7 linked regions of the Homo sapiens genome follow. The protein of the gene in region 4 purifies or fractionates together with the protein of the main gene of each other region. This does not show direct contact. Each region holds a gene or a part of one and is shown on either strand. Other genes may lie near its edges.

Evidence for each region.
Region 1: the proteins of FRMD1 (region 4) and BPIFA2 purify together in Homo sapiens (affinity purification with mass spectrometry; 2 studies listed by BioGRID and IntAct, with this or other methods). This does not show direct contact.
Region 2: the proteins of FRMD1 (region 4) and AMY1C purify together in Homo sapiens (affinity purification with mass spectrometry, with the first as the bait; 2 studies listed by BioGRID). This does not show direct contact.
Region 3: the proteins of FRMD1 (region 4) and BPIFB2 purify together in Homo sapiens (affinity purification with mass spectrometry; 2 studies listed by BioGRID and IntAct, with this or other methods). This does not show direct contact.
Region 5: the proteins of FRMD1 (region 4) and MUC7 purify together in Homo sapiens (affinity purification with mass spectrometry; 2 studies listed by BioGRID and IntAct, with this or other methods). This does not show direct contact.
Region 6: the proteins of FRMD1 (region 4) and DSTYK purify together in Homo sapiens (affinity purification with mass spectrometry; 2 studies listed by BioGRID and IntAct, with this or other methods). This does not show direct contact.
Region 7: the proteins of FRMD1 (region 4) and DSG3 purify together in Homo sapiens (affinity purification with mass spectrometry; 2 studies listed by BioGRID and IntAct, with this or other methods). This does not show direct contact.

What each region holds. Positions count from the first base shown.
Region 1 is NC_000020.11:33,166,497-33,171,036, reverse strand, and holds the start of BPIFA2 (BPI fold-containing family A member 2 precursor), read right to left. Parts: upstream 2,879-4,540; 5' UTR 2,828-2,878; intron 1,907-2,827; 5' UTR 1,892-1,906; coding exon 1,735-1,891; intron 1-1,734. UniProt on the Homo sapiens protein: Has strong antibacterial activity against P.aeruginosa.
Region 2 is NC_000001.11:103,748,340-103,752,884, reverse strand, and holds the start of AMY1C (alpha-amylase 1C precursor), read right to left. Parts: upstream 2,988-4,545; 5' UTR 2,819-2,987; intron 2,462-2,818; 5' UTR 2,416-2,461; coding exon 2,248-2,415; intron 1,903-2,247; coding exon 1,756-1,902; intron 953-1,755; coding exon 755-952; intron 307-754; coding exon 76-306; intron 1-75. UniProt on the Homo sapiens protein: Calcium-binding enzyme that initiates starch digestion in the oral cavity.
Region 3 is NC_000020.11:33,014,140-33,018,021, forward strand, and holds part of BPIFB2 (BPI fold-containing family B member 2 precursor), read left to right. Parts: intron 1-1,296; coding exon 1,297-1,357; intron 1,358-2,902; coding exon 2,903-2,963; intron 2,964-3,882.
Region 4 is NC_000006.12:168,061,897-168,065,778, forward strand, and holds part of FRMD1 (FERM domain-containing protein 1), read right to left. Parts: exon of another isoform or gene 3,162-3,882; coding exon 2,975-3,161; intron 1,861-2,974; coding exon 1,705-1,860; intron 1,064-1,704; coding exon 998-1,063; intron 844-997; coding exon of another isoform or gene 775-843; intron 86-774; coding exon 1-85.
Region 5 is NC_000004.12:70,478,497-70,482,378, reverse strand, and holds part of MUC7 (mucin-7 precursor), read right to left. Parts: intron 1,581-3,882; coding exon 501-1,580; 3' UTR 1-500. UniProt on the Homo sapiens protein: May function in a protective capacity by promoting the clearance of bacteria in the oral cavity and aiding in mastication, speech, and swallowing. Binds P.aeruginosa pili.
Region 6 is NC_000001.11:205,170,039-205,173,920, reverse strand, and holds part of DSTYK (dual serine/threonine and tyrosine protein kinase), read left to right. Parts: intron 1-2,359; coding exon of another isoform or gene 2,360-2,414; intron 2,415-3,882. UniProt on the Homo sapiens protein: Acts as a positive regulator of ERK phosphorylation downstream of fibroblast growth factor-receptor activation. Involved in the regulation of both caspase-dependent apoptosis and caspase-independent cell death.
Region 7 is NC_000018.10:31,446,154-31,450,812, reverse strand, and holds the start of DSG3 (desmoglein-3 preproprotein), read right to left. Parts: upstream 3,073-4,659; 5' UTR 2,936-3,072; coding exon 2,888-2,935; intron 1-2,887. UniProt on the Homo sapiens protein: A component of desmosome cell-cell junctions which are required for positive regulation of cellular adhesion. Required for adherens and desmosome junction assembly in response to mechanical force in keratinocytes.

The sequences.
Region 1 (4,540 bases), on a different chromosome or scaffold from region 4:
ATCTGATCTTCAACAAACCTGACAAAAACAAGCAGTGGGGAAAGGATTCTGTATTTAATAAATGGTGCTGGGAAAACTGGCTAGATGTATGCAGAAAACTGGAACTGGATCCCTTCCTTACACCTTATTAAAAACTTAACTCAAGATGGTTTAAATACTTAAATGTAAAACCCAAAACCATAAAAAACCTGGGCAATACCATTCAGGACATAGGCACGGGCAAAGACTTCATGACACCAAAAGCAGTTGCACCAAAAGAAAGCAATAATTCTTATAGGAGGAGGAGGACAAAGTGTCTTTATGATAGGTCTCTGGAGAACAGGGGGATGGGAATAAATGTCGTGACTGGGTGTGGTGGCTCACGCCTGTAATCCCAGTACTTCGGGAGGCCAAGGCAGGAGGATCACTTGAGGCCGGGAGTTCGAGACCAGCCTGGGCAAAATGGTGAGACTCCACCGCTACAAAAAATGTAAAACTTAGCCAGGTGTGGTGGTGTGCACCTGTAGTCCCGGCTACTGGGGAGGCTGAGGTGAGAGGATCAGTTGAGCCCAGGAGGTTGAGGCTGGCAGTGTACTCTAGCTTGGGTGACAGAGTGAGACCTTGTCTCAAAAAATAATAAATGTCATGATAGATACAGGATGATGCTCATGAAAATAATTAAGTATATATGAGAAGAAAATAATTCAAGTGAGAAACAACAGGGCAATTACTAACTTAAGGAAAAACAAAAGACTATACCGTATAAGAAAAGAGATGTAATCATAATATTGTAACTTGGCTCTGTAATGGACAATATCTACCTAGTTATAATGATTCAGAGAATGACACTTTAAATAAAATTGGTGATATAACTACGTCTAATCGTATAATTCACGAGGTGACTTTGGTTTAGACATTTCTGTCTCTGGGCCTCAGTTTTCTCAGCTGTGAAATTAGAGTGTGAGTCCTTTCTGCATCTTTGAAAGTTACCTAAGCCCTTGACAAGGTTTGAAAGGCAGCCATTTGCAGAAGTTACCTCCTCCTACAAAAACTGTTTTTGATGTGCTGCTAATGTTTCCATAAAACAAAAAGAAAGCCAAGTTATTTTAATAGGTTAGCATAAAAAGGAGGTATAAATAAATATAAAGGTAGGTAGCTTTACAGATACCAAGGCTAGGTAGGGATAATTTCCTTAATTTTCACTGAATTAACACAAGTCCATAAAAGAATATTAAACAACCCAAAAGAAAAATATGCTAAGAATATAGACAAAATCCTCAAGTTAAAATATGTAAGTACATAGTAAATATATGAAAAAAGAAGAGGGCTCCTTCATAATTAGAGGAATGCAAAGTGAAATAAGTTATAGCTTTTCATCTGTGAGACAGGCAGAATATTTAAAGTTGTCCATACCCAGTGCTGGAAAAGGAGTGGGAAAAAAGGCACTTTCGTAGACTGTTGGAGAAAGTGTTAACATAGGAGATTATTTGTCAACAGCATAGTTTTTGAACTTTTGAAATCCCACTTGTAGGAATTTATCTTATGCACGTTTATCAGGATATAATATGTAAAAGGCTATTCATTGTGGCATTGCTTGTTTCTAGAAAGATAAACGAATGAGTCAGGAATTGAATAGCCACTTTTCTCAGTAAACCGCCCATAAAGAGTAGCCCCTGGTGGCAGCCTCTGGTAATGCAGGCATAGTGTTTAGGAGGCTAATTTAGGTGACACTGTTCATCACCCTTGTTGATTTACCTTTAAGAGTATTGTCAACTGTCTCAAGTCCCTCGTGAAGAACAGGTTCCAGCTTATCCACGACATTGCTTAGGTCATTGCCAAGATTGTCAAGAAGAGACTCTGAGGTCCCAGTGAGCACGCCGCACAGGAGAACAAGTTTCCAAAGCTGAAGCATCTTTTGTCTTGACACCTGGACAGTCATGGGAAGAACAGGAGTGAGAATTGCCCAGAGGGAAATGGACTCTTCAGTGAGTTCCCATCACTCTTAACATTTAGCATTCCATTAAGATAGATGTGGTTATTTCCTATTTTACAAATGGGCAGCCAAGGTCAGAAAGCTACAGCAACTTGCCCGGAGACACACAGTCAGTGAGCAGAGGAGCTGGGATTTGAAAAGTCAGACTTGACTCCAAGCCCATACTCTTGACACAAAGTTCCTTTTCATACGCTGTCTTCTCTGCCTAAAATATTTTTCTTCTTCTTTACTTTTCCACTTAGGTCAATTCCTACATCATGCCCTCTGTGAAGCCTACTGTAGGCCCCTTCCCAGATTCTAGGTTGGAGGAGTCCCACCTTGCTGCCTTCATTATCCTGATCAAGGTCTTGGATAACACTTCCCTGATGATTTGACCACCTTTCCTACCAGGCTGTGAACTCCTTAGAGGAAGGACTGTGACTTATTTCACTGTCGAATCCTCAGGCGCCAGTAAAAAGCCTGCACCTAGTACAGTACAGTAAACGAATAAATCTTTGTTGAATATAAGTATGAACAAATCAATGGAGACCACCTCATGACCCTGCATTGTTCATTAGTTTGACACTTATTTTAATATAATCTATAGATCTCTAAATTTACTCTGATTTGCCATTTGTCTTGACACCTGGACAGTCATGGGAAGAACAGGAGTAAGAATTGCCCAGAGGGAAATGGAATCTTTAGTGAGTACTCATCACGAACTTGCCATTTAGAGCACATTTAGAGATATATTGATTATCTCTGCTGTATTCAAAATATTAGCTAACCCAAGCAATCCCACCCCTCTGCCTCTTGCCCCCAAAGCCTTCCAAAGACCACCACGTGTGGTGCCACTGGGGGGAGCACGCCACTCACGCGTTTAGAGGAGGATGCTCATGAAATCCTTGCCCCACTGCACAGTCTGCTGGGATTCTGCTGAATGGTGGCGGCTATTATATGGTGGAGATGGGATGGAAGGCTGCCCACAGAAGCAAGCCTTGGTTCTGGGATCATCCAAGGACACTCCAAGGAAAATAACCCCTCTCCAGGATGAGCAGAGAGAGAGATTTCCAACTCAAAGGTCACCCAGGATGCTTGAATTGAAACGGATGGCTATGGAGAGGGCTTTCCGCCAAGACTAAGACCAGGTCCTCATGGAGCCTGCAGCTACCGAGGGGGTGGTCCTTGGTCCTTGTGGGTGAGGACTGGGAGAAGACTGAGAATGAATGAATTGGAGAATGTCCTGGCAGGAGGACCCATAATGACCATCCGGTCTAACTCCGTCATCATTTGGAAACTGAGGCTCAGAGAGGGGAAGCCACCAGCCTGGGGTCATTCAGCAAGACAGGGACCGAGATGGGTCTAGAATTGTGGCCCACAAGGAGTCAGACAGCCTCCCAGGGGTCCTGCCCCCAGGGGTCTGCACCCGGCAGGTGCAGCAGATGCCTGGCAGCTGCTTGTGCTGACACTGGGCTTGGTGTCCCTAAAGGGCACTTTAGATGCACTTTTCTGTTAGTCTTTATGAAAACTCTGTAAGGCAGGTTTTCAGAGCTCCATTTTCCAGTTGAGAAAGCTGAAGTTCAGAGAGGGAGGTGGCTTGTCCATACTTGCAAGGACAGGAACCAGGCATTTGGGCCACCAGGGAAGACCCTTCCACCCATATCAGGCTGAGGTCAGTTAGCAGAGAGGGAGAGTCCCTGGGCCTGAGTATCCTGTTTTTGCTTCGGCCACTGATGTTTGGGTTGGTTGTAACGCCTGCTGCATTGGGCCTGTGTCAACCCGGAACAGCACAGGAAACTCGGGTGGGTGCCCACTTGGCCTCAGGCTGGGAAGGACTGGCACAGAGCTCAGGGTCACCATAGGTCTCTGCCCTTCTGCTCACCCACCTGCAATTCAGCAAGGACCTGGGGGGCCTGTCCTCAAAATGATGCAACCAAGCAAACGGTGGGACAAGACCAGTGGCTCCAGGAGCTGGCTGTTCCTACACTGACCATGGCTCCACTGTTACAGCACAGAGCTGGGCGGCTGCAGGAAGGTGATGGCCAGGCCCCAAGAGCCCAGACCATTAGACCCCTGCTGCAGTCTTGCCTGTGGTCTTGAATGGTTGTCACACCTCCTTCCCTGGCTGCCTGACACCGGGTTCTCCAAACGTCTGAGCCCCGCTCTTCCCCCAGTTGTGAAGCACAGAGCCAAGGGCTGTGCTGAAATCTTGTGAAGGCAGTTTGTCCCAGCCCAGGAACATAGCCCAGGGTGCTGAGCATGATGCAGTGACCTCGAGACCTGGTGTTGGCCCAGGCCTCAGTTGCCTCATCTGTAAAATGGGTAAACACGCTGTTCCTGGATCTCAGAGGCATGGTGGACAGGCAAGGACCTAGGAAATCAAAACGATGGTGAGGGGCTTTGAGGGCAGTGCTCAGAGCCTGGCACTGGGCTTGGGCTGTCCTGGGCATGAATACTCTCTCTCTGCTGGTTGCTGGCCATGTGACCTGGGCCAGAGACCGCACCTTGCTGAGCCTCAGGCTCTTTATCTGTGAAATGGGACTAAGAACAGTGCTCACCTCAAGGGCATGCTGTGAGGTCAAATTAGTG
Region 2 (4,545 bases), on a different chromosome or scaffold from region 4:
CATTTTTAATTGAATCTGCCGTGAATTTTCTAATGAATAGGATGATATTTTATATGCCTATATGTATTGACGTACCTCCTGGTAAATGAAAGGTTTACTACCTTCCGGGAACCAGTTACTGTTTAGATTATGCAGTTTGTCCAAAATTGCCTTTATGTCTCCAGGCCACATGTGCTTGGAAGCATCAATTCTGAACCCTGCAACACCAATGTCAATGAGATGGTTCATATATTCGGCAATCTTAGAACGCACATAATCCTTCCCCAGTGCAAGATCGAGAAGACCAGACAGACGACAATCTCTGACCTGTTGAGGTAAGAATGTTATGATTGATTAATAAAACCTCACTTTTCGCCTGAGAATCCATTTGATTATTCATTTATTCCATGATTCCTCAAGAGATATTCTATGGTGACTTCCTTGCATTGGACACTGGGGATGCTCACATTCTACTATAGATGTATCTTGGAAATATTTTCTAATAGAAAATAGAGAACTTAGGAAATAAAGTCGATGAGTTTTTCAATTGGTTGGGAGCTTTTTAAAAGTGGACAAATGTGTATTGATTAAAAATCTTAAATCAATATTTAAAGGTTTTCAAATATGGATTTGAGTTTCTTAAAGTAGTCAAACTTGTTAACCTCTGTCCCTAAGAGATCTAAATTCATATTTACAACGAAGTTCAATTAGCTACATGTCTACAACAAAAGGCATATATCACTCCTTATTCAGATCACTCTCGTAAAAAAATTACCTGAGTAGCATCATTATAGTTCTCGATATCTCCACTTCCAGTTTTACATTTACCATCATTAAAATCCCATCCAGAATATGGGACTGCTGGAAAGTCCCTACTTCCAGGGTTGAAGTAACTTCCACAGGTACTGCTTGTTCCTGCACTCACAGCATTACCACACATATGATTAATTACAGCATCCACATAAATACGAACCTAGAAAACAAAGTTTCTAATTCAGTGTGACTTACAGAGAGGCAGAAATTTAAAGAATTATTGATTAAATTTATAGTGTGCTAATAAAATTCCAAAATATTTCATACCTTATAACTATTTTCCTACAAGATCAAAAATCAACTGTGAAAGGAAAGTAATGTGAACTAAACACCTACATTCATTCCAGACACTTGGCCAAATATATATAGGAATGATAAACTGAGAGAACCGGAAACTACCATAAATAGGAGGAAAGGCAAAAAGCCCATTTTGGGGAGACACAACTCAGATGAGACTGAAAAGGTTACTATTTGGGAAATTTCAGTGGGTCACCAGGAGAAAGCCTGTACTCTCTACTAAGCTTGGAAGACAAATAAGGTAGCTATTCATCTCAAATTCTGCTCCTCATTAAATAGATAAGCTACCTATTCACCACAAAAAAAACCCAAGAATTAGGAATGGAGACACAAGTCATCTAAAAATGAGAGCAAATATTGTAACTGGAATTAAAATTCCTCACCAGAAAATCCTTCCAGGAAATATGGATAGTTATAGCGGTTAAAATTTGATGTTTTGCTTCAGAAGTAAACTCTGCTATAAACTTTAACTTATCTCTTTAGTAGAGAGCACATATACAAATATTTTCAAAAATTGAACATAAGGTGACAGTTACTTTTGAGTTTTAAAGTATGAAGTAAAATTAAAACTGATATGGAAAACTTTCTGCTCAAAAGGAGCAAGAAAGAAGAGACAGAAATCATTTTCCTATCTGTTATTTTTAAAGGAAACTAGAATTCACTTACCCCAACATTGTTGCATCTAGTCACCATGTTTCTAAATTCATCTTCATTTCCAGATCTTGTGCATAATTTATAGCTAACTGGTTGGTATCTTTCCCACCAAGGTCTGAAAGGGTTGTGAATGGCAACATTTTCATTTGGTGGAGAGACCTACAAATTAAACAGTCTTCATAAGTACCAAATTCTGTCTTACTGTATATCATTGAATGTTCTAGAATCTAATCAATAATACAAAAGATTCTTGAATCTTGGTATAGGCAGCTATCTCTTGAAAATATTAACAGCACATCGGAGGGCTCTTGTTGAAGAAAGATTATATCAGAAACAAAATATACAGTTGCAAAGAATACTACATTGTTTTTTCCTCAGAAAATTCTTTTACTTAGAATACTTACCTGTGAAGTAAAATGTTGCCCAAGCTTCACGTAGAAGATCAGAATAGTGTTTACTACAAGCACAGTGAATTCTGCAATTGATACTATGAATCATACCCACCTGAACCCCTCCAAATCCCTTGGGAGCTAAATATCGCTCACATTCAAGAGCAATATCAACCCATCGCCATTCAAACAGATGAACAATAGATGTTCGTCCTTGTTGTGTATTTGAGGAATACTGAGCCCAGCAGAACCCAATGGTGAAAAGCAACCAAAAGAGCTTCATTTTGCTTTGAAGTTGTCAGTGTCCTTTCCAGAAACTATTTATATTCCTGTAAGAAGCACATTTTACAATGTAAATAGTAGCATGAATAAATACTTGAGGGCAAACTGTTTATTCATAATCTGAAAAGGATTATCAATAATAATCCTAACTGGTGAAGAACATCAAAAAGTCTCTCATGGAAATCATCTCAATGACCTCTTAGACATTAATGTTTCTTTTCTTTTCTTTTTTTTTTTTTTTTTGCATATGGTAGCACTTTTATTTTTCCTTACACAATGACATGTTGCTGTGGCCTAATGTTCTCACATAACAGCAGAAAACCAAAATTTGTTGTCAACTCTTAAAAGATCGAGAATTGCATACTAAAAAACTTTACATAAATTAAAAGGATGAATACATTTACCGGTATAAATGCGAACCGCTTCCAACTCAAGGCAAGTAACAGCCCACGGTGCTCTGGTAGATAACGTAAGCTAAGAAAGGAAACTGGGTCCTATGGCTTGGACTTTCCAACCCTGACAGACCGACAAGACGGAAACAACTGGTTCAGGAGCCCTTCCCAGCCTCTAGATAAATCTCAGAACACTCAGCCCTGACACATTAATACCCTGCACGGATCAGAGACTGCTGACCACACAGACTCACCAAGCCAGACTTGTCTTCCACAAGCACGTTTTTAGCCATGAAGTGACCAAGCCACGTGTACTAAACACTGACATCAAAGGTATGTACAGATACCAAGGGGAAGAGTTAACTTGAATGCCAGGCCAAAATCAGCAACAAGTTCTACAATCCAGTGCTGATATTGAGAAGAGAGAAAGACCCTGTCCTCTTGTTTTATATTGTTTTCTATTCAGTAAAAACAACAAGGAAGCAAAATCAAAGGCACAAAACCAGGCCTGGGCCTGGTTGGCCTAAACCCAGTAGTTACAAATCAACTTATGATTTAGAAGCCGATGTTATTCATAGATTCCAGACATTGTATAGAAGAACATTGTGAAACTCCCTTCCATATTCTGTTTCTCCCTGACCACGGGTGCATGTAGTCCTTGTCGCATATCCCTGGCTTGTTCAAATCAATCACGACCCTTTCATGTGACATCTTTAGTGCTGTGTGCCCTTAAAAGGGACAGAAATTGTGCACTTGGGGAGCTCGGATTTTGAGACAGTAGCTATCCGATGCTCCCAGGTGAATAACACCCTTCCTTCTACAACTCGGTGTCTGAGAGTTTTGTCTGCCGCTTGTCCTGCTACATTTCTTGGTTCCCTGACCTGGAAGCAAGATAACTGATGGACGGCCGAGGCAGCTCCTTAGGCAGATTAGGCATGCCTTGTGGAGTAAGGCCGGGGCATCCCTCAGGCTGCCAGGGACTCTGGCCAGCCTGAGGGATGGGATCCAAAGAGCGCTCCCAGGTAGGAAATGGCCCCGGTTGAACGCCTCGCCAGAGCAGTGATCCCCGCGGAGGATTAACACAGTGGCTGAACACCAGGAAGGAACTGGCACTTGGAGTCCAGACATCTGAAACTTAGTAAGACAAGTCTTTTCAACTTGCCCCACTCCACCTGAGCGGAAGCTTGGCCTGATCGCTCATGGTGTGCCTGCACCCATATCAATTTCCATATAGAGATTCCTAGTTACAGCTAGTTTTAGATCCTCTACAGTGGTAAAAGGACAGGCAGCAGCAGTAGTAGTAGCAAAGGGACATTTATTTCAGGAAAGTTCTCGCTCCACCGGCCAAGAGAAGCCAGCACCTAAAGTTCTGTTTGACCCAGAGCTCGAGGACTCAAGGCAGGAGATGGCACCAACAGTGCCCTCAACCCCTTATCCAGTGGGGAGGCCCCCTTCTCCTGAGCCCACAGCCCCTAGACCACCCAGAGTAGACAAGAACAAAAGTGAAACTGCGGGAAAATCCACTTCCCTGGCAGCCCGCTTAACGGCCCAAGACGGGAATTCAAATGCCCTGAGAGAGCAGCGATATACTAGGACAGATGAGGTCAGACATACGGTAGAAAGGCATGCTTTTGTGTATCACCCTTTTACCTCTGCTGAACTACTCAACTGGAAAAATAACACTCCATCTTACACTGAAAAGCCTCAAGCCCTAATTGACTTGCTTCAAAGAATTATCC
Region 3 (3,882 bases), on a different chromosome or scaffold from region 4:
CACACAGCAAGTGAGCGGCCAGAGCCTGGGACCTTTCCATCCCCTGCACCACTTGACAATACACACTAGCTATTAGCACACTCTTTGGGGAGGGATTTTGGGTGGATCAGACTGGCTGTGAGGACCTCGGAGACCCACCCCTCCTAGCAGAGATGAGGGAAAGGAAGCCAGGGAGGGCCTGGGACCCACCAATAGCCAGCTCTCGCAGGCCAGGCCGCTCCCTTCTGCATAAAGGCTGATGGCAGCTCCCGCCTCCAGAGCACTTATGTGTGCTGAGCATTGTTCAGGCCCTTTCCATAGATCATTTCGTTTGATCCTCACAGTATCCTACCAGGTAGGTGTTAAGTATTTCCTGCATTTTACAGGAGCGCAAATGGAGGCCCAGAGCAGTTAAGTGACTTGCCTAAGGCCACCGGCTGACAAATGGTGTAACCACATTCAGGCCCAGGCAGCCCGACTAATCCCATGGCTTGCAAATCCCCCTAGACGATGTCTGCACCTTCCCAATGTGAGCGGGGCTTGCTGAGGTGTTGAGCATCTTGGAGGCTTAGAAGAATGCAACGTATGCATCAAGACTGAGCTTTCTCCCCAGAGAGGGATGTGGCTGCGTAAACCCATTCACACTTGTGTCGCATGATCACCACGTGTGACTCACGACCCCTCACTGTCCTTACAGGCAGGGGATGCTCACAGCTTATTGAAGGGGAAATGGAAGCCCAGAGGCTTTGGGAACACAGAGGCCACCCTCCCACCTCCCCCCCAGGGAGCTGGTTCAGCAAGGTTGGGCTGTGGCTTGGATCGACATTTTTGCAAATCAAGGAACTATAGGTGCCTATGGAGCACTGTTGAGTTGTTTAGAGGGGAAACGGAGGCCCAGAGTCAGGAAGGGATTTTATTAGGTGTGTCACAGAAAATTGGACCCAAAGCATGAAGCAGACCCAGGATCCCAGCTCTACCCCCTAACCCAACCTTTACTGGGCTTAGAGTGGCCACGAAGCCAGCTGGCCAAGGTCATGGCCAAGTCTGGCTTTTGCAACGCCCTCTCTGTCTCACGCGCCACATTCTTGGCCATTTCCAAACCTTGAGATAAATGACCCTCTCTTTTGAGACTCAATTTCCTCATCTATGGGGCCAGTTATGCCAGCACTGTGTCTGGCAGATGGCAGGGCATCGAATGGAATTGATTGGCCTCCTGGCTGAGGATAGAGACTTCTCTTCCCAGACGTGCGACTGTGCTGAGTGACGGGACTTAATATGTTTGGGAGCCCAGGAACTCTTTCTGTGTTTCTCCCTCAGCACCTCCCACGCGCTGCTGGTCCTGGTGCAGAAGCACATTAAAGCTGTCTTGAGTAACAAGGTAAAGGGCTTGCAGATTTCTCAGAAAGGAGGGCATGGCTTCACCGAGAAGGCACAGTGAAGAAAGAGTGGGATTTCAGGCAGGGGGTACTTTGCTTGGGATTAAAAAAAAAAAAAAGACGCCCCTTCATGGTCCCCATGAAGGCAGGGAAAAGGCTGGTGCCAGGTCCAGGGGAGTGATGGGGAGGCACAAATGAGGGCAGAGTTTATGGGGTTGGAGGGGAGGGGGAGGTTCATCCTCTTAGGGCAGCCCCAATTTCATGCTAGAGGGTGGATGGAGTGGGGTTCATGGGCCTGTGGTTTGTGAAAAGAAGACAGAACGAGAGTGAACGAGGGTGTGGGCATGGGGCCACCTGTGGCCTGGACGGGTCCTGGTCCTTTCCAGATGTGCAGTCTCTGCTCCTGGTTCCACATCTGTACTGAAAGAGACAAAGCCCCTCCTCCGTGGGGTGGTTGCAGGCATGAAATGCATTAACATTTCAGAAGAGTTCGGGACAGTGGTTGGCAGAGTGGGTGCTGCTATTATTATTACTATTTTAGCTCTTGTCATTGTCTGCGTGGAGCTGACTTGGTGAGAGAGGGTAGCCCAGGGGCTAGGGTCCCACTGCCCAGGGGGAGCTCATTTTCTCTCTGCCCTATCCCATCCCAACCCCACTACTGCTTTAAGGGGCAGTAGTAGAGACGAAGTCAACCTCCTGCATGCCACCCCACACCCCCCAGAGGGCGACTGCAACATGCCCACCTTACAGATGAGAAAACCGAGGCTCGAGGGGTGAAGGTGGGGCAGCTCCTCTTGAGAGTCCTGCGGGATGCCCAAGTGGACAGCTTAACTTTGTCTGTTGGTCCAGCCTCTTCCTCTCCCTGTAGTCCCCCTGCTGCCCTCATAGCCAGCCTCTTCTGGGCAAGGGGCTTCAGGCAGCACTGCAGGAAGGAAGACCCACCCTCTCCTCTTCCTCTCGACCTCGCCCTGCCCAGTCTCGCCAGCTCTTGCCTGGTTAAGGCTGCGAGTGCCCCTGGCCTTGCAGTTCCTCCTCTGCCCCCATCTTCTATCACACTGATCCCAACATAATGTACTTCTCTGGCTGCCCATGGTGCCCAGGGAAAACCTCTGTAGCTCCCTGGCCTGGCATCTGAAGCTTGGCCTGGTCTGGCTTGCTGATCACTGCCTGCCTCTGCATGGGCACCACCCTCTCACCAGCTGAGCTTCAAGACTGAGCTCTCAGCCCCGTTGCAGCAGATTCCCTGCCTCCGTTGCTCAGGCCCAGCTACGACCACCTGGGCTGGGCTCCACGGCCTCTGTTCTTTCTTCCGTGCCTGGGGACCTATGCTCACACTGCCATCAGCCTTTGGGTTGCTTCTCCTCTGTTTCTTCGGTGCCTGGAAGGGGTCCCAGGAGATGCCCACTGGCGGGTGGAGGAAGGGATTCCAGGCATGGTGTATGGGTTGGGGAGGCTTCTAGACAGGGACTCTAGACCCCTCTCAGCCTTGTGCCCTCCAGCCCCAGGGCTGCCCTAACCCCAGCCTCCTTCTCTCTGTCTTACCACAGCTGTGCCTGAGCATCTCCAACCTGGTGCAGGGTGTCAATGTCCACCTGGGCACCTTAATTGGTAAGATCTGGGAGCCAGGGGAGGGGGCTGGGGCCTCTGGGACCCCCTGGAGCCCCTAGAACCCTCCAAAGGCTCCACTCTGGATCACGGTCGACCTCTAGGAGAGTCAGTTGTAGGGTGACTGAATTGTGAGCTCCCAAAACAGTGTAATTATTCATGAAATCTGGGAATCTCCAAATTCTAGAACCAAAACCAAGTCTTTGATTCTAGAATCTGTGTATCTTAGATCAAAAAATCTGAAAAACAAAATACAATTTTGAAATCATGAGTCTTAACATTGGAGAATCCAAGGACCATTGACACTTAGAATCTGGAATCATTCTAGAATCTAGACTCATCATTCCAAAGACCAGCTCTTGCCTCGGCCTCCCAAAGTGCTGGGATCACAGGCATGAGCCACCACCCCTGGCCTCGCCCTTTGAAACTTCCCTGCAAGAGTATTCTGAGGCTCAGAGGAGTTGGGCTCTGAGCCATGCCTCCCTGAAGGCTGCTCGGAGGGTCTGTTAGGGAAGCTGGACTTCTGTGATCTTGCATAACTGGCCCCAGTGGTGTGTGCTCTTGGAGTTCTCATAGGAGACAGTGTGATGAGGTGGGAAGAGCATAGCTTTGGGGTCAGACTGACCAGGTATTACAATCCTGGGCAAGACTGAACCTCACCAGACTGCGTGTGCGTGTGTGCGTACGTGTGAGTGTGCATGTGTGCATACGTGTGTATAAAATAACCCTACAGGATTGTAACGAGGATTGAATGAGATGCTGTAAGTCAAGCATCTGGACCTTGATAAGTGAGAGTTCTCTTCTTTTTCTGTGGTTGCTTCTCACCTTTGTCAGGGGATATTTGTGCCTGGACTGGGCCCTTCTCCTTCCTTCTAACTTGGGGTCACTAGTCTCCCACCAAGGGGGAAAGCAGAAAGCATAC
Region 4 (3,882 bases):
GCCTGGACCGCCAGGTGCACCCCGTGTAGTAAACCAGCTTCTGTGCTGCGGGCAGCCCATCCAGCTGGATCTCCAGCTTCTTTCCCTGAGCAAACAGGAGAGAAGTTGCCACTCCACAGGTGGAAAACCACGCTAGCCACAGGAAAGGATGATTTTAAATGTCAGCCATGGCCCCCAGGGGGACGAGGCCCAGGTTTTCACTTCGCAGTGCAGATGGCTGTTGGCGGACACTGTGCGCGGACACTGTGCTCTGCTCCGCCCTTGCTTGAGAGGACACAGCCCTCCTGGCTAGAAAGTGCCCGCAGCAGTGTGAGGGGAGTGGAGGTCTGGGGTGGGACAGGAAGACCTCGGTCTGGCTGTCCAGAGCAAGCCTGCTGTCCAGCAGCCCCCACAGTCACTGCCCTTTTATCCCCGGCACCCGGGCTGTGGGGTGACCCTGGGTGACAGCTCTGGGGCCGGGATGAGAGGAACAGAGGCCACACAGGTGCGTTTCTATGACCTGCTCTTCTTTTCTCCCTTGATTTTCTCAATTGGGAGCCAGAAGTTTTCAAGCGATAACAACAACTAGACCTCACCGGGCAGCTAAACACCCCACGCCTGCAGGGCCAGGGCCAGGCACAAAGCCCGTGAGGCCAGGACGGCCCTGATGCCCCCGAGAGGCCGGCAGGAAGGGACCTGCACCTCTTCGGGTGCAGAATTGTCCAGAAAATGCCCCGAGGATGAAGCTGCATCTGCCCAGGCTTTCCAGGGCACGGGGACCCCCCAGACACCCACCAGAAATGCCAGCTTCCCAACGTGGGGCCAGGGGAGGTCGTACAGCAGCTGCGGAGCACGGTCCACCTCCTGCGGGACAGCAGAGGCAGGGCGCGTCCAGGCAGGGCCAGCCAGCGCCCATGACCGCTGCAGGGATGCTACACAGCCCAGACTCCAGTGGGGAAGGGAGGAGGGGGTGGGGGCAGGACGAGGGGCTCTGTGAGGCTGGAGCCCCTTCGGTCACCTGGTAGATGTGCACTCCCCTGAGGGCCAGTCCCAGGATCACGGTGGGACGACCTTCCTTCTTATCCTAGAGGACACAGGTCAGAGGTCAAGTTGCAGGCCTGGAGGTGCTGGGCCTCACTGATGGCAGAGTATGGTCAGTCTGGCTAGGGGCCGAGGGCTCCATGGACCAGGCTGAGCTCTGGGGCCCATTTACAGACAGTCTCATTCACTCCAGCATCAGATCAAAGGCATAGTTGTCATAGCACAAGCACTGCCTTTCATCATGCCAGATAAACACCAGCCACGACCTAAGAGAGCCTGGCCATGCCGGGCCCGGGGTCCTGGTCCCACTCAGCCACGGGGGCTCCATCCATCCCTGCCCTGGGGTCCTGGTCCCATCCCACTCTTAGCCACGGGGGCTCCATCCATCCCTGCCCCGGGGTCCTGGTCCCACTCTTAGCCACGGGGGCTCCATCCATCCCTGCCCTGGGGTCCTGACCACTCTTAGCCATGGGGGCTCCATCCGTCCCTGGCCTGGGGTCCTGATCCCACTCTTAGCCATGGGGGCTCCATCTATCCCTGCCCCGGGGTCCTGGTCCCACTCTTAGCCATGGGGGCTCCATCCATCCCTGCCCTGGGGTCCTGATCCCACTCAGCCATGGGGGCTCCGTGCATCCCTGGCCTGGAGTCAGAGTCCAGCCCATCGCTGGCCGCCCTGGGCTCGACCTTGTGCAGCCTGAAGAAGTGCACGGGCACGTCCTCCAGCCGGCAGGCCTCCTGGATGAAGCACAGCATGGCCTCCTTGGGGCTCAGGCCCTGGCGCTCACGGTGCAGGGTAGGCATGTGCCGGAGGATGTAGTCAATCCCCCTCTTGGTGATGATCTGAGGACAGAGCCGGGAGGTCAGCTCAGACCCCTGCTGGTCCCCCCTTCCTCCTTGCCAGCCCCCTGCTCCGAGAAGCTTCCCCAGACTCCCACAGCTGGTGCCAACCTCGGTGGGCAGGGCCAGGGCCTGGCTGCTGAGCCCAGAACCAGAGATGAAGTCTCAGTGCCCACTGTGGCCCTGGGCCCTGTCTGATTTCCTGTCCCCCTCGGGTCCTCCCCAAGGGGAATGGCAGCAGCCAGCCCTCCTCAGACGTCTGCAGGTGGGGACTCTACTCCCAACGAGCCCTGGCTCTTGGGAACCTGCCCAGTGAGGACCAGCTGGGGCCATCACCGGGACCGGGGTAAGAATCGCAGGGACGTGGAATCACTGAGGGTGGAAATGTGCTCAGAGGCCAAGGGCACGTGTGGCATCCACAGCACTGGGAGGAAGCCTGGCTGGGCCCCACCCTGACCTCAGCGACTGCCTCAGAGCAAAGGTGAGAAGGCCCCAAGGTGCACAGGATAGAGAGGTACACAGGGATGAGCGGTCAAGGAGAGAAACCTTAAAGTTCACCCGGAACAGGGCCTGCATCCCCGGGGTGACAGCCATCAATCCGCGCGGCCATCAGGCCAGACAGCGCCTGGGACTGGGCACACAGTGGTACAGCCCACGCCTCTCCATGGCCCTCCTCCCAGGGGGATGCCACTCCTTCCCTTACAGGTGAGGAAGCTGAGGCTCAGAGACTCCTACGGGTCCCAGGATACTTAGAGAGAAGCAGGAAGGTTCACAGCCACAAGGCCCGTGTGGGTCACATTCCACAGCCAGGCAGCCAAGGGGCTCAGAGAGGTGAAGCCAGAGTGCAAGGCCACACAGCTGGCTGGGTGCGTCAGGAGCACAGGCACCCACACCTGCCTGCTCAGGGCCACTCCTCCCACACTGCCTGCCTTTGGGGGTGGTAAGGACCCTTGGGCCTTCAGGACAGAAGGACAGGTGATTGCCCTGTTTCCATCCCTGACCCTTGCTCCAGCAGCCCCTGCCAGGCCCTCAGTCCCCTGCTCCCATGGATGGCACCCGGTGGAGGTGGACAGGCACCAGACTAGCAGTGCTGGGAGGAGGTGGGCCCTGACCTTACCCACTGTGGGAAGTAGGAGTGTGGCTCGAAGTACCTCCCGGCATGGGCCGACTCCCGGTGCTCGCCCAGGTCAGCCTGCAGCGCGCAGGCAGCCAGCAGGAAGTAGGCTTCCTCCCGGTGAGCGCACTGTGACCTCAGCACGCGCTCCTTCAAGTGGCAGTAGTACAGGTGCCGTGCCCTGTGGTCGCTGGAAGGTGGCAGGGAGTGAGTTCCAGGACGACCGGTGTGGGGACTGCTGGCCCCTCTGGCCCTGCCTTGTCCCTCCCCACACCAGCTCCCAGGGCTGTCCTGAGCCCCTGGTACCTAGTTCCTGTCTTGTTATACCCACAGCTGTGTCCCTGCAGGGCCAGCACGGCACAGGCCCACACTCTTCCTGGAGCGGGGCACAGGTGACTTGCTGCCACCAAGGAGCCACTAGATGAGGCTCCACCTGCCGAGGTCCCACTCCTTCCCCAGTGAGCTTGGCCTTCACCAAACCAAGCCCCAGTGCAGGAGAGGTGCACAGAGCCCGGGCGACTCGAATCCCTGGAGGTGCACAGGGCCTGGACAACTTGAATCCCTGGATGTGGACAGACCTGGCTCCCAGAGCTCACCGCCCAGCACGGGGCTTGGCCATGGCTGGTATTCATTAATCACAGGCCAGGTGGAGGCTCGCCCAAGATGCAGGTGCAAGATCTTCTCATATAATTCCCCCGAACTGGCCCCATAGCACCAGGTAGCTCCATCCATCAACCCAACACTTTCCAGACCTCCCCTCCAAGGCTATCCAGAACCTTCCACATATTCACACACCCCTCACTCTCCAGAACCTGCCACACAACCACATACCAGTGTCTCCAGGGCTCTCCACACAACCACACACCTTTCACTCTCCAGAACCCTCCCACACAACCACACGCCCCTCACCC
Region 5 (3,882 bases), on a different chromosome or scaffold from region 4:
ATCAATACAATGACAGGTCTATCAATATATTTAGATAGATAAATGTTTCTATCTACAGATATTTAGATGTCTTTGTTCATCTGGAGAGTTCCAATTTTACCCCTTTATGTTTATAGGATTAGATGGTTCAGGTGGGATTTTGATGGGGGTACAAGGTAGTGGTTTTGTAGTTTCTAACATTCAGGGAAAAGTAAATGGTTGATGGCCCATACAATATTCTCTCTTTATCTAAGGACTTTCTTTGCCCTCAGTAGGCTATCTCTGTAGGATCCAAAGAGTTATTTTGAACCCCAGACCTGCATCTGGCTTGTGGGATAGAGGCATTTTGTCTTGTTAATAGGTCTTGTGGTGGTGAATAATTAGATTGAAAGATTAATGATAGTGCTTTAAATCTGAGTAATATAATTTCATGTTGGGATTGGTGCTAAAAGAAAGGTGGTAGTTCTGCACTCATGAATCACATCTTGTAAATGACAGAACACTTTACAACATACAATATACTATTGCTCCACCATGTCGTCAATAATTCTGTTTAGTAGATTCTTCATATATAAAAGAAATCGAGAAATTTTATTTTGGCCAGGAGCTGAAGTTGGTTGTTTAGTAGTAGTAGTTTGAGTAGTGACCGAAGTAGTAGTCTGGTGTGTGGGTGCAGCTGAAGTTTCAGAAGTGTCAGGTGCAAGAGTAGTTGGGGAAGAATTAGGTGTGGTAATTGGGGCAGCTGTGGTCTCTTGTGGAGCTGGGGAAGACGGTGGAGCTGGTGTAGTTGCAGAAGGTGTGGGTGGGGCAGCTGTGGTCTCTGGTGGAGCTGAGGCGGATGATGGGTCTAGGGTAGTTGCAGAAGGTGTGGGTGGGACAGCTGTGGTCTCTGGTGGAGCTGAGGAAGATAGTGGAGCTGGTGTAGTTGCAGAAGGTGTGGGTGGGGCAGCTGTGGTCTCTGGTGGAGCTGAGGAAGATGGTGGAGCTGGTGTAGTTGCAGGAGGTGTGGGTGGGGCAGCTGTGGTCTCTGGTGGAGCTGAGGAAGATGGTGGAGCTTGTGTAGTTGCAGAAGGTGTGGGTGGGGCAGCTGTGGTCTCTGGTGGAGCTGAGGAAGATGGTGGAGCTGGTGTAGTTGCAGAAGGTGTGGGTGGGGCAGCTGTGGTGTCTTGTGGAGCTGGGGAATTCACTGGTGCTAATGTAGCTACAGAAGAGCTTGTGTTAACATTTTCTCTTGAAGATATGGTGGTGGCATTCTGGGGAAGAAAAGTCACATTTGGAAGGGTAGTAATTTTGGTGGAAGCTGATGGGAAAGTCACAGATGGAATTTGGGTTGTAGCCACTAAGGTAGGGTTGACCACACTGCTATTTTTATCTGGATGTTTAGGTGGCTGGTGAGGATTTGGGAATTTGGGGGGGTTATTAGGTGAAGGTGGAAGCTTAGGCCTACAGCGTTTGTGCAGACATTTATAGGACTTTCTAATGAACGGCTTCTGGTGAGCTAGCAGTCCAGGATAATGTGGTAATTCAAAGTGAGATTTGGGTGATTGGTGATGATGCCTTCTGTGACGTAGTTCATGATCCCTTTCTCGACCTTCACTGAACTGCAGAAAAGAAAGAAAATGTAAGAAATGAAAAAAGTATCCATTTATCAATCAGGTGATCACTGCTGACCATGAGATGAGCGGTATTTGTGGAATGCTGGGATTAGAAACCAGAGTACATTATTGAGTCAAGTGATTATCTTCCTAATTTCACCAAGTTTCAAGAAAGAATTGCTACTAGAGAGTTTTCTTTTGTCAAATGTCTACTCTCTAGATAGCTGGGATGAATATATTCCTGTGGGTTCTAGCTTGAATGCTTAGCTGGATACGAACTTTTGTGCTTACAGTTCCTCTCTTCTTCCTCTGGTGGAAAATGGTCAAGTTACTGCCTGAGGTCCCATCACAAAAGCTTCCTGCTTGCTCAGCCTGTTCACAAAACTTTAGTCAAAGACATTCAACTGAGATCCAGGAGCCCTTTCTAGATTACACCCCTCATATCTACCATCATCAAAATACGAAACAGCCAAACAACAACAAAGCCCCAACAAACAAAATATCCCACCCCGGCTTCATGTTCTCCATATTTCAGGAAACAGTTTTTAGCCTTTATAAATTGGAGAAACAACTTTGGTCATTACCTTTTAACTTTATTGTTTAAAAAATTAGAATTATAGAATTCATGATTCGGGGGTTCATGAGTCATCTGATTTTTAGAGAAAATTTGCATGTTTATGCATTTTGTCTGGATAGAGCACCAATGGTTTTCATGATTTCTGAAAGGTGTTTACATCTGAAAAGAACACTGATCCAGTCCAACTGTACATCTGATACTTGATCTTTTATCAATACACCTGCTGAAAGGCTTTCTAGTCTATGCATCTAACCTCTTCTGATTAGGAACTCACTACTGTAATTCCTAAGGCCGCCTGGTAGAGAGTTCTTGACACTGAATGTAGGTTTGTTTTTTGGGATTTTCATTCTTAACTGAGTAGAATTTTCTTCATGAAGATTTCCATCCTTTGGTCCTAATTTTGTTTTGGCAGATTTACAGAAGATCCAGAAGTCTTTCAAAATTTGAAAATAACTTCTATGCCATGTGGGTCATCATTTTGCAAGATATTTTTATTTCCTTTAGCCATTGCTGACATTATTTGAGTTAGAGTACCATCACTGTTTCAGTTTCTTATCTGTAAACATACTTCATGCCTTTTATATCCCTCTTCCCTGTATTCAATCTCATACTACATTTTTTAGTGATCAGTTATATTAAATTGGAGAAAAGAAATATAACAGGATAAATGAGAACATCCCAAACAAGGATAGGTTACGTTTTCTTCCTAATGATGTTCACAGAAGCCCTTTTTAGATGACCAAATGGGTAAATCATTCCAGTCGCAAGTTATAAAGCTTTCTTTGGACACAAAGTTTAGTGCAGATGAAGTGACAACTTCTGAGAGACTAGCTGAGTTGTTTAACTAAGATAACTTCCTCAGAGACTAATATATCCAACCTCAAAAATAGCTTCTAGGTACTGGGCTTTCAGAGGTGAATGAAACAGGGACCATCGTGAGGCTCATGTGATTGAGGGAATGAACCACATAACTATTTCAAAGCAAAGAGGTCATAGAATTAGATTTTGGATCTGGAATTTAATTTAATCCGAATCATTTCATAAATGAATAAACTGAGATCCAGGCATATTAAGTGACTTGCCCAAAGTCATTCAATTATTCAATGCCAGACATAGGACAGACTAAAACCTCCACTGCTGGTCTGTTGCAGTGTGTTTCAAATATGTTCCTCTAAGATCTGGACATTCTCCACAACATCCATCAATACAAGAAAGTATTATTTGTTTAGAAAATTAAATTGTCCAGGAAATTTTAATTCACAACTGAGAACAACCAATAGCTAACATAATGGCTTCTGATACTCACATGACTTTGGTATTTTTCCATAAATCTCTCTTAAAAGGGCATAGGTTTTCAGAATCGGTAACACTGACTCCAGGAATCTCTGAGGAGATCCTTTCCATTACAGGGGTAGTTGTTTTCTCATATAAAATAGAACAGGTCATATTGTTCAAACAGATCTTTCCCTGGAGATTGAATATGCAATCCACATAATTAAGGACCTGCTCTGACTGAAGCAGGATTGAGGGCCTCACATTCCATGATCTCGGTCTTTCCCTTTCCAGATGGTCTCTGAGGATGTTGCAAAGAATGTCCAGATCTTATAGGAACATGTATGAAACATGCTGCAACAGACCAGCAGTGGAGGTTTGGCTCTGTCCTGTGTCTGCCACTGAATAGCTGAGTGACTTTGGTCAAGTCACTTAATGTGCCTGGATGTCGGCTTATTC
Region 6 (3,882 bases), on a different chromosome or scaffold from region 4:
TGGCAAAACCCATCTCTACCAAAAAATACAAAAATTAGCTGGGCATGGTGGCACATGCCTTGTAATCCCAGCTACTCAGGAAGCTGAGGCAGGAGAATCACTTGAACCCAGGAGGCAGAGGTTGCAGTGAGCCAAGATCGTGCCACTGCGCTCCAGCCTGGGCGACAGAGCGAGACTTCATCTCAAAAAAAAAAAAACAACCGTATTGGTCTTACAAATGGACTTGGCAGCTTTGGCTGATGTTTCTGTTGTGCACACAAAATGGTCCTTTAAGGAAAACCTGAAAATTTATTCTAGAATTTTAAGATAATCCATCAGAAAAAACAAACAAAATTCTTCCTGAAATTTCTAAACAATACTTTGGTTTTGAATATTTAGGCTTTCCTTTCATAAATTTGATTGGTTGATTTATATCTTTTAAAAAATATGTCTTTAGGGCAGCTTTGTAATATAAAAAATATTTCCACCTATAATTCTTTACTTTAATGTAACTGTTTTCTTTTCTTTTCTTTTTTTTTTTTTTTTTTTTTGAGACAGTCTCATTCTGTCACCCAGGTTGGAGTGCATGGTGTGATCTCAGTTCACTGCAGCCTCCGTCTCCTCGGTTCAAGCAATTCTCCTGCCTCAGCTTCCTGAGTAGCTGGAATTATAGGTGTGCACCAGCATGTCTGGCTAATTTTTGTATTTTCAGTAGAGACGGGGTCTCCCCATATTGGCCAGGCTGGTCTTGAACTCCTGACCTCAAACGATCTGCCCACCCCAGCCTCCCAAAGTGCTGGGATTACAAGTGTGAGCCACCACACCCAGCCTAATGTAACTGTTTTCCTTTCCTTTTAGTCTTTATCTCATTGTTATATGTGATTATAATGTTGTCATTTATGCAGTTGTATGTTCTATTTTAAACCTTAAAATTTGTTACTTACCAACTTTTTGAATATGCCTGACTGAAATGATTCATACTGTAGCATGTGTGACTCAGGGTAGTGAAAGGGGGTTTGTTTTGAATAGCAAGATGAGCATCAGACTAGTCTTCCAACCAGAAAACATTCCATGCAACTTGAGACACAGATGAAACAGCAAATTTCTTCTTGGCTTGGGGTTGGATAAAGGGTGGATTGACTTATGTAGTGTTTGCTAAAATGACAAATGGTGAGATGCTAAAAGCACTTTGAGCTTTAGGGAGTTCAAAGTGGCCAGGCAAATTAAAGTTATGTGACCTATCTGAGAATATAGCATAGTTCTTTGTGAGAAAAGAAAGTGAGATATTTGTGCTTTGTTGGAAATAAAAAAGATTTTAAAAACTCAAGGCTGGGCACAGTGGTTCACACCTGTAATCTCAGCACTTTGGGAGGCTGAGGCGCAGATCGCTTGAGCTCAGGAGTTCAAGACCAACCTGGGCAACATGGCAAAACCCCATCTCTACCAAAAAAAAAAAACCCAAAAAAGAATGAAAATTAGCTGGGCGTAGTGGCTCACACCTGTAGTATCAGCTACTTGGGTGGCTGAGGTGGGAGGACCACTTGAGCCTGGGAGGTTGAGACTACAGTGAACCTTAATTGCACCACTGCACTCCAGGCTGGGCAACAGCACAAGACCTTGTCTCAGAAAAAAAAAAAAAACCACAAACAAACAGAAAAACTTTTATCAAAAATACCTACTGCTCATGCTGGGTGTGGTGGCTCACACCTGTAATCCCAGCACTTTGGGAGTCTGAGGCAGGTGGATCACTTGAGGTCAGCAGTTCAAGACCAGCCCGGCCAACATGGTGAAACCCCATCTCTACTAAAAATACAAAAATTAGCCGGGCGTGGTGGTGCGTGCCTGTAATCCCAGCTACTCGGGAGGCTGAGGCAGGAGAATTCACTTGAACCCAGGAGGCAGAGGTTGCAGTGAGCCGAGCTCGTGCCATTGCACTCCAGCATGGGTGACAGAGTGAGACTGCATCTCAATCAATCAATCAATAAACCTGCTGCTCAGATAGGGTAAGAAATAAAAACAGCATAATCATCTGAAAGAAACGAAATTGTGTATCTTTTAGACTTCAGACAAAGTAAATATTCAACATCTGATAACTGTTAAGGACACAAACTTGAGCATATTTGTGTTGAGTTCTTTTATAACTCTAAAATATGCTAGAATTCTATGGAGGATTGATTCTGAGTTTACAGACCCTTGAAGACATCAGGAGTCTGTGTACCTACAGTGGTAATATATTAATATGTGTGAGTCCCTAGTTAACCGTTTACACCTGGAATGCCAGGCAAAGTAGACAATGTCAGAGACACAGAGGAACAACCTGTGCAATGGATGGAAATGCAGTAGATGGACATATGCTCTTGTGTGTTTGGAACCTTCACAGGAAAGAAGCAGAACACAAAGTGGAAAGTGCAGACGAGGCAAAGGACCTGTGGAAGGTTTGTTTCTAAACCTCAAACCTCAAAGATCTTTTTTTTTTTTTTTTTTTTTAATTGAGACAGAGTCTTGCTTTGTCGCCCAAGCTGGAGTGCAGTGGGGCGATCTCAGCTCACTGCAACCTCCGCCTCCTGGGTTCAAGCCGTTCTCCTGCCTCAGTCTCTGGAGTAGCTGGGGCTACAGGCGCCCACCACCACACCCGGATAATTTTTGTATTTTTAGTACAGATGGGGTTTTGCCATCTTGGCCAGGCTGATCTCAAACTCCTGACCTCAAGCGATCCTCCTGCCTTGGACTCCCAAGGGCTGGGATTACAGGTGTGAGCCACTGCGCCGAGCTTAAAGATCATTCTCGAAACTCACTTTAGCAAACTTGGGTATTTCAGTTAGGATTAGGTTCAATTGTAACAGATCATCAAACAAACAAACACAAAAAAACCAGGAACTTAAAGATAGAGTTTTTGGGTTTTTTTTTTTTTCCTTACATGAAAGAAGTCTGAAGCTAGGTAACTGAGAGCTGGCATGGCAGTTCTGTGATCACCAGAGACCTAAGCTCCCTCTTTCTTTTGGTGTCATCATCTTTAGTGCTGGCTTCCACCATCAGGTTTGCCTTAGGGCTGCTGAGTGATCGCTGCTGTTCTAGCTGTCACATCTGTGCTCCAAGCAGGAAGAAGGACAAGGCCAAAGGACATATTTCCTGGTAGAATCCACCCCCTGTACCCTAAAGGGCTTTCCTGGAAACCCCACCCACTTATCGGATACCCCTATCTGTAAAGGACATTGCCTTCACTTATAACATGGAGACTAGATATTGGATAGGCAAACCTTGGTCTTTGCCATACCAAGTGATCGATCATATTCCTAAAGGTATTTCTTAGACTTAGGTTGCTAAGACTTCGGGATATCTACAGACTCAGAACAGGACAGTAATAATGTTTGGTGAACCTGGCTTTTCGTTTCCTGCTTAATTGATTAATTCAACAGTATTTAGGACTTACCACATGCTAGGCACTGGAGCTACGATAGTAAGCAAAATAGACCCAGTCCCTGCCCTCAAAGAGTTTACAGACCCATGGGGGAAAGAAAGGTTTTAAAGAAGTGGATTATAAATATGTTGAACCTTAAGAAGAGGGAAGTAAAGTGTGCTTGGTTGGGGCTGTGTGATAGGAAAGGCTCTATAAGGATATGTCATAACATATACATTGAAACTTAAAGGATGCTTAGGAGTTAGCCAGGTCAGAATGGCAGGGATGGAGGTGTCAGAGGAGAGCAAGAGGGGGAGGAGTGCCCCAGGTCGACTCACTCCCAGTCTGATAATTTCCATTACAATTCCTTTTTCTTCCATTATTTGTCTTAATTCTTCATCAGAGGGAATCAGTGGGAATGTCTAAGCAATAAAGGAAGGCAGAGACCAAAATTTTTTTTTAATCTGATGGCTAAAGGGGTTGCCATCCTTTCTACTTCTTTGTTT
Region 7 (4,659 bases), on a different chromosome or scaffold from region 4:
TCTTTCTCACAGCACTTTTTAATTGTTTTGCATGCATTGCTGCTTTATTCTCACTATGACCATTTTCATTAGGCAGGGGGTGGGGTGTGATTCTTATTTGACAGTTGAGGAAACAAAGCCTGTAGTGAGTCAGTGGCATAGCCAGAGATTTAAGTCTATGACTTTGCTATTATTTCTCACTGTTCTGGGCAACCCATGTATGGTCATTGGATGGTGGATTATTACAAAACCTTCAAACACATCTGCCAACTTTCAGAACCCACCCTGCAACAACAAAAAATGAGCATTCCCACTTGAGAATGCTTTAGAAAACATTGCTTTTCCCCCCCATGACCACATTATTTCAAAACTCTGGGTGGCTCCCCACTTGTAAAAGGTTTCCATGAGCCTTCACAAAATGCACTTTTCAATCTGACCCTCAGCTGCCTTTCCAATTCATGTCCAGATTCTCCAAAGCAAACTGTCATGCTAGTCATACTGGTGTGTCCATTTCCCCTAGGCAAATCCTAACTGTGCCTGCCTTTGATTATACTCTTCTGACAACCCAAGAGATCTCCTTTTGGCCCGTCCATCTATACTTATCCCAAATCAGCTCAAATTTCACTGAATCCATAAAGACTTGATTGCCTCTCTCCTGACTGACACTGCCTTCTATCAATAGCATTAATAGTAGACCAGTACTGTCCAATAGAAAGCTAAAAACCACAAATGCGAACCACATATAATTAAAAAATTTAGTCACATTTAAAACGTTTTTAAAAGGTGAAATGCATTTTAACAATACGGTTAACTTAATCTAATACATCCAAAATACTATCATTTCAACATGTAATCAACATAAAAAATTATTGACATATTTTACATTCTTTTGTTCATTCAAAGTCTTCTTCAAATTATGATGTATATTTTATATTAAATAGCACACCTCAACTCAGACCAACCACATTTCAAGTGGCTTAAAACCACATGTGGCTGGTGGCTACCATATGGGACAGAGTAGGTCTAGACCACTCAGTTGAACAATTATGTATGAAGTTATACTGTTGTTTAAACAGCATGTGTATGTAAAATTTTCTTGAGTGGAACCAAATACATGTCATTTCATAGTTTCCTTTATGACTAGAATTATAGGGACATTGTGCGGGGGTTTTTTAGTTTAGAGAAGGCTCATTAAATCATTCATTTACTCATTCTTCAAACAATTGCATGTCCACTCTAAGACAGATATAATAAGCATTGAGAATATAAAAATAAAAATTAGCCTCAATATAAGGATGTCACAGTCACTCCAGAATCAGAGGAGTAATTGAGAGTGTCCTATATGTCAAATTAGAAAAAAAAAAGAATCCCCCTTAGCTTATGGTGGCCCAATCCTATGTCCTCATGGCAATACTATCCCGACAGCCCATGCTGCATGGCCCCTAACTTCCTGAGCTTTGCCATTGGCTTGGACATAGGGGTTATCAGACCACCTGGGGTTCAGCCCAGACATTTCCCATCTGGAAAGGTGGGAAAGTCATACAACTGTCACATTTCTCTTTAACAACATCCTCCTTTCAAATAAAATCAGGTACTGAACACAGTTACATTGTCGTAATAGAAATAGAATCTTAGAGGCTGGGTGCAGTGGCTCACATCTGCAATCCCAGCATTATGGGAGGCCGAGGTGGACGGATCCATTGAGGCTAGGAGTTTGAGACTAGACTGGTCAACATGGCAAAACCCCATCTCTACTAACAATACAAAAAAATTAGCTGGCTGTGGTGGTGCACGCCTGTAATCTCAGCTACTCAGGAGGCTGAGGCACGAGAATCACTTGAACCCCAGAGGCAGAAGTTGGAGATCGCACCACTGCACTCCAGCCTGGGCAACAGAGCCAGACCTTGTCTCAAAAACAAAAACAAAAACAAAAATCTTAGGGAGAGCTAAGAAAGTCCTTTCTTGAGATCTATCTCCCTGTGACTTCTTGAAGTCCATTTATCTCAATTTTTTTCATGAAGAAATGAGGTAAATTGATGCCTAGGCCAACCCAGCTTATCATGGAAACCATACAAATTAGCATTAGGAATTGTTTTGACATTCATTTTTAAGGTATATTTAACTATTTTGATATCTCCGTGTAACAGATAATATTGTGACTTTTCTTTTTTTTTTTTTGCTATAAGAACACAGTTAAGGAGTAAGTTAGTCTGTAACATCCAGGTTTTAAACAGTCTGTAACATTCCGTTTCTCTTTTAGATAATACTATGTACGACTTTCTCAATCAACAGAAGTATTACTTTTCTGAAAAAAATGGCTTTAAAATGTTGTATGTCTTTCCCCCCATCCCCAAAGGCTGACATTTTCTTTTGGCACATAATAGCTAAACATAAATACTTACTTAATAATCCTCCCAACTTCTCTAGAGTCAAACACTGCTTTGATTTTAATTCTGCGATTTTTTACTTTTAAAAGCGTGTCAGGTATCAAGCCCAGGCGTGTAGAGTTCTTAGCTATATGCTAAGAGACATGTAATCTTGGAAAATAGAAGTGGCTCCTGTGTTCTTGTTTGTGGGTTAGAAAAACTAGTAAAAGCATAACTTTAAAGAAAGTGAAAATGTTGTGGAAAATATAACCTGTGATTAAGATTACTTAATTCATTAACTAAAAAAAATTCTAAATGGTTTTTAAAACTCATTTCTTTCTGGTTTATTTTTCTATGTAAAATACAACATAAAAAACAACAAAAGAAGGAAATTGGTAATCTTCACGATTTCATTTCAAAGTGTTGATTTCCACTGCACTCCTTTTAGAATTTATAATAAAGATTGTGCAATCAAATATAATATTCTTTAACAAGGGAGGAAGCAGGGAAGTTTGTGATTATTAGGAAAATCCAGGACTTACCACGAAGATGGCCAGAGCCCCTGTAGTTCTGGGGAAGAGCCCCATCATTGTCTCTGATTTCCCTGGTGAAAAAGTCCAAGTGAGCCGCTGCTTCTATCCTGCCAGCCGTCTGCAGTTGATGTCTAAGAAAAGCCCTCTGCAGCGTCTCTGCTGCTTTCCGAAGGAGTCTACAGATGGTCTGTTATGCGGTCCCTCCCCACCCTAAACCAAGGGTAGGTCTCACCAGAAACGCTTGCATCACCTTTGCTCCCAGGTAAAAACTTAGCCACACCTCGATTCCTAAAGCAATGAAATCCTTTGTTGGAAGCTGAAAGAAAAGTTCACAGGCTAAAGACAAAGTTTAATAGGAAGGTACCAGATGAATAATAAATTAATCATGATGTGGAAGTGCAAAAGCTAGTCCGGACTACACTTTGTCAGTGTTGATGTCTTATGGCTGAATCTAGTTGACTATGGTTACAATGAAAACCGAAAAGCAAAGCAAAACGTACAAAATCCCCCAAAATCTAACTTGTAAAAGAGCATTTATTTTCAGCCTGAGTATGTGTGGGTAGATCTAAAGTTAAGCAAAATGTAGATGTTAAGCAATGATATATTTTATTGAAAGGCACTAAAAATATGAAGAAGAAAAACATCCCATTAAGCAACTATGAATGTAGGCTTTGAATAAAAAAAAAAAAAGAAATAAAATTGAACAGTTATATGGTGCCTTGAATATTTGAAATATATAAATAATGCGTTGCAAAATTACTCTGATAATACTCAAATGACATCTTTTATACTGTATTTCTTTTCATTTATAACTTTCAAAAAAGCCTAGATTGCCTAATAAGGTAGATTATCTTGGTGCTCTTTTCATTACTCAAGACATTTTCCCCAGTGTGGTGAACCTGCTTGCTGTTACATACTCGGAAGTGCTTAAATACTTCGACTCTAACCCAAGATAAAGCAGAGGGGAAAAATTACCAGCCCCATTTTAGCTACTTTGCTTATAACATTAGAATTTAAAGTACTTTTTACAGTTTCAGAAATATTGAAAGAAAGGTTTGGTAGAAGAGCAATTTTATCTTTGCAAGTATTACACATTAGGTTTTAGAAACCACTTAATCACAGTTTTTTTTTTGAATCGGGGTCTCGCTCTGTCGCTCAGACTGGAGAGCAGTGGCGCGATCTCGGCTCACTGCAACCTCTGCCTCCCGGGTTCAAGCAATTCTCCTGAATTGAGGAGGCTGTCTCCTGCCTCAGGCTCCCGAGTAGTACAGAAAATGAAACATTATTCTTATTTATTTATTTATTTATTTACTTACTTACTTACTTGAGACTGCGTCTCTTTGTGTTGCCCAGGCCGGAGTGCAATGGCGCGATCTCGGCTCACTGCAAGCTCCGCCTTCCGGGTTCAAGTGATTCTCCTGCCTCAGCTTCCCGAGTAGCTGAGATTACAGGCTCCCGCCAACTCGCCCGGCTAATTTTTGTAGTTTTAGTAGAGATGGGGTTTCACGTGTTAGTCAGGATGGTTTTGATCTCCTGACCTCGTGATCCTCCTGCCTCAGCTCCCAAAGTGCTGGGATTACAGGCGTGAGCCACCGCGCCAGGCCAATCACAGAGTATTTTAAGCAGAAAGGACTGTGTAGTCTAGGAGTTAGAAAAAACATCTTGTGAACAAAATTTTGTTTTTGTTTCTTTTTAAATTGTGGTAAAATATACATAACATAAAATCTATCATTTTAACTATTTTTAAGTGTACAAATCAGTGGCATTAAATATATTCACAT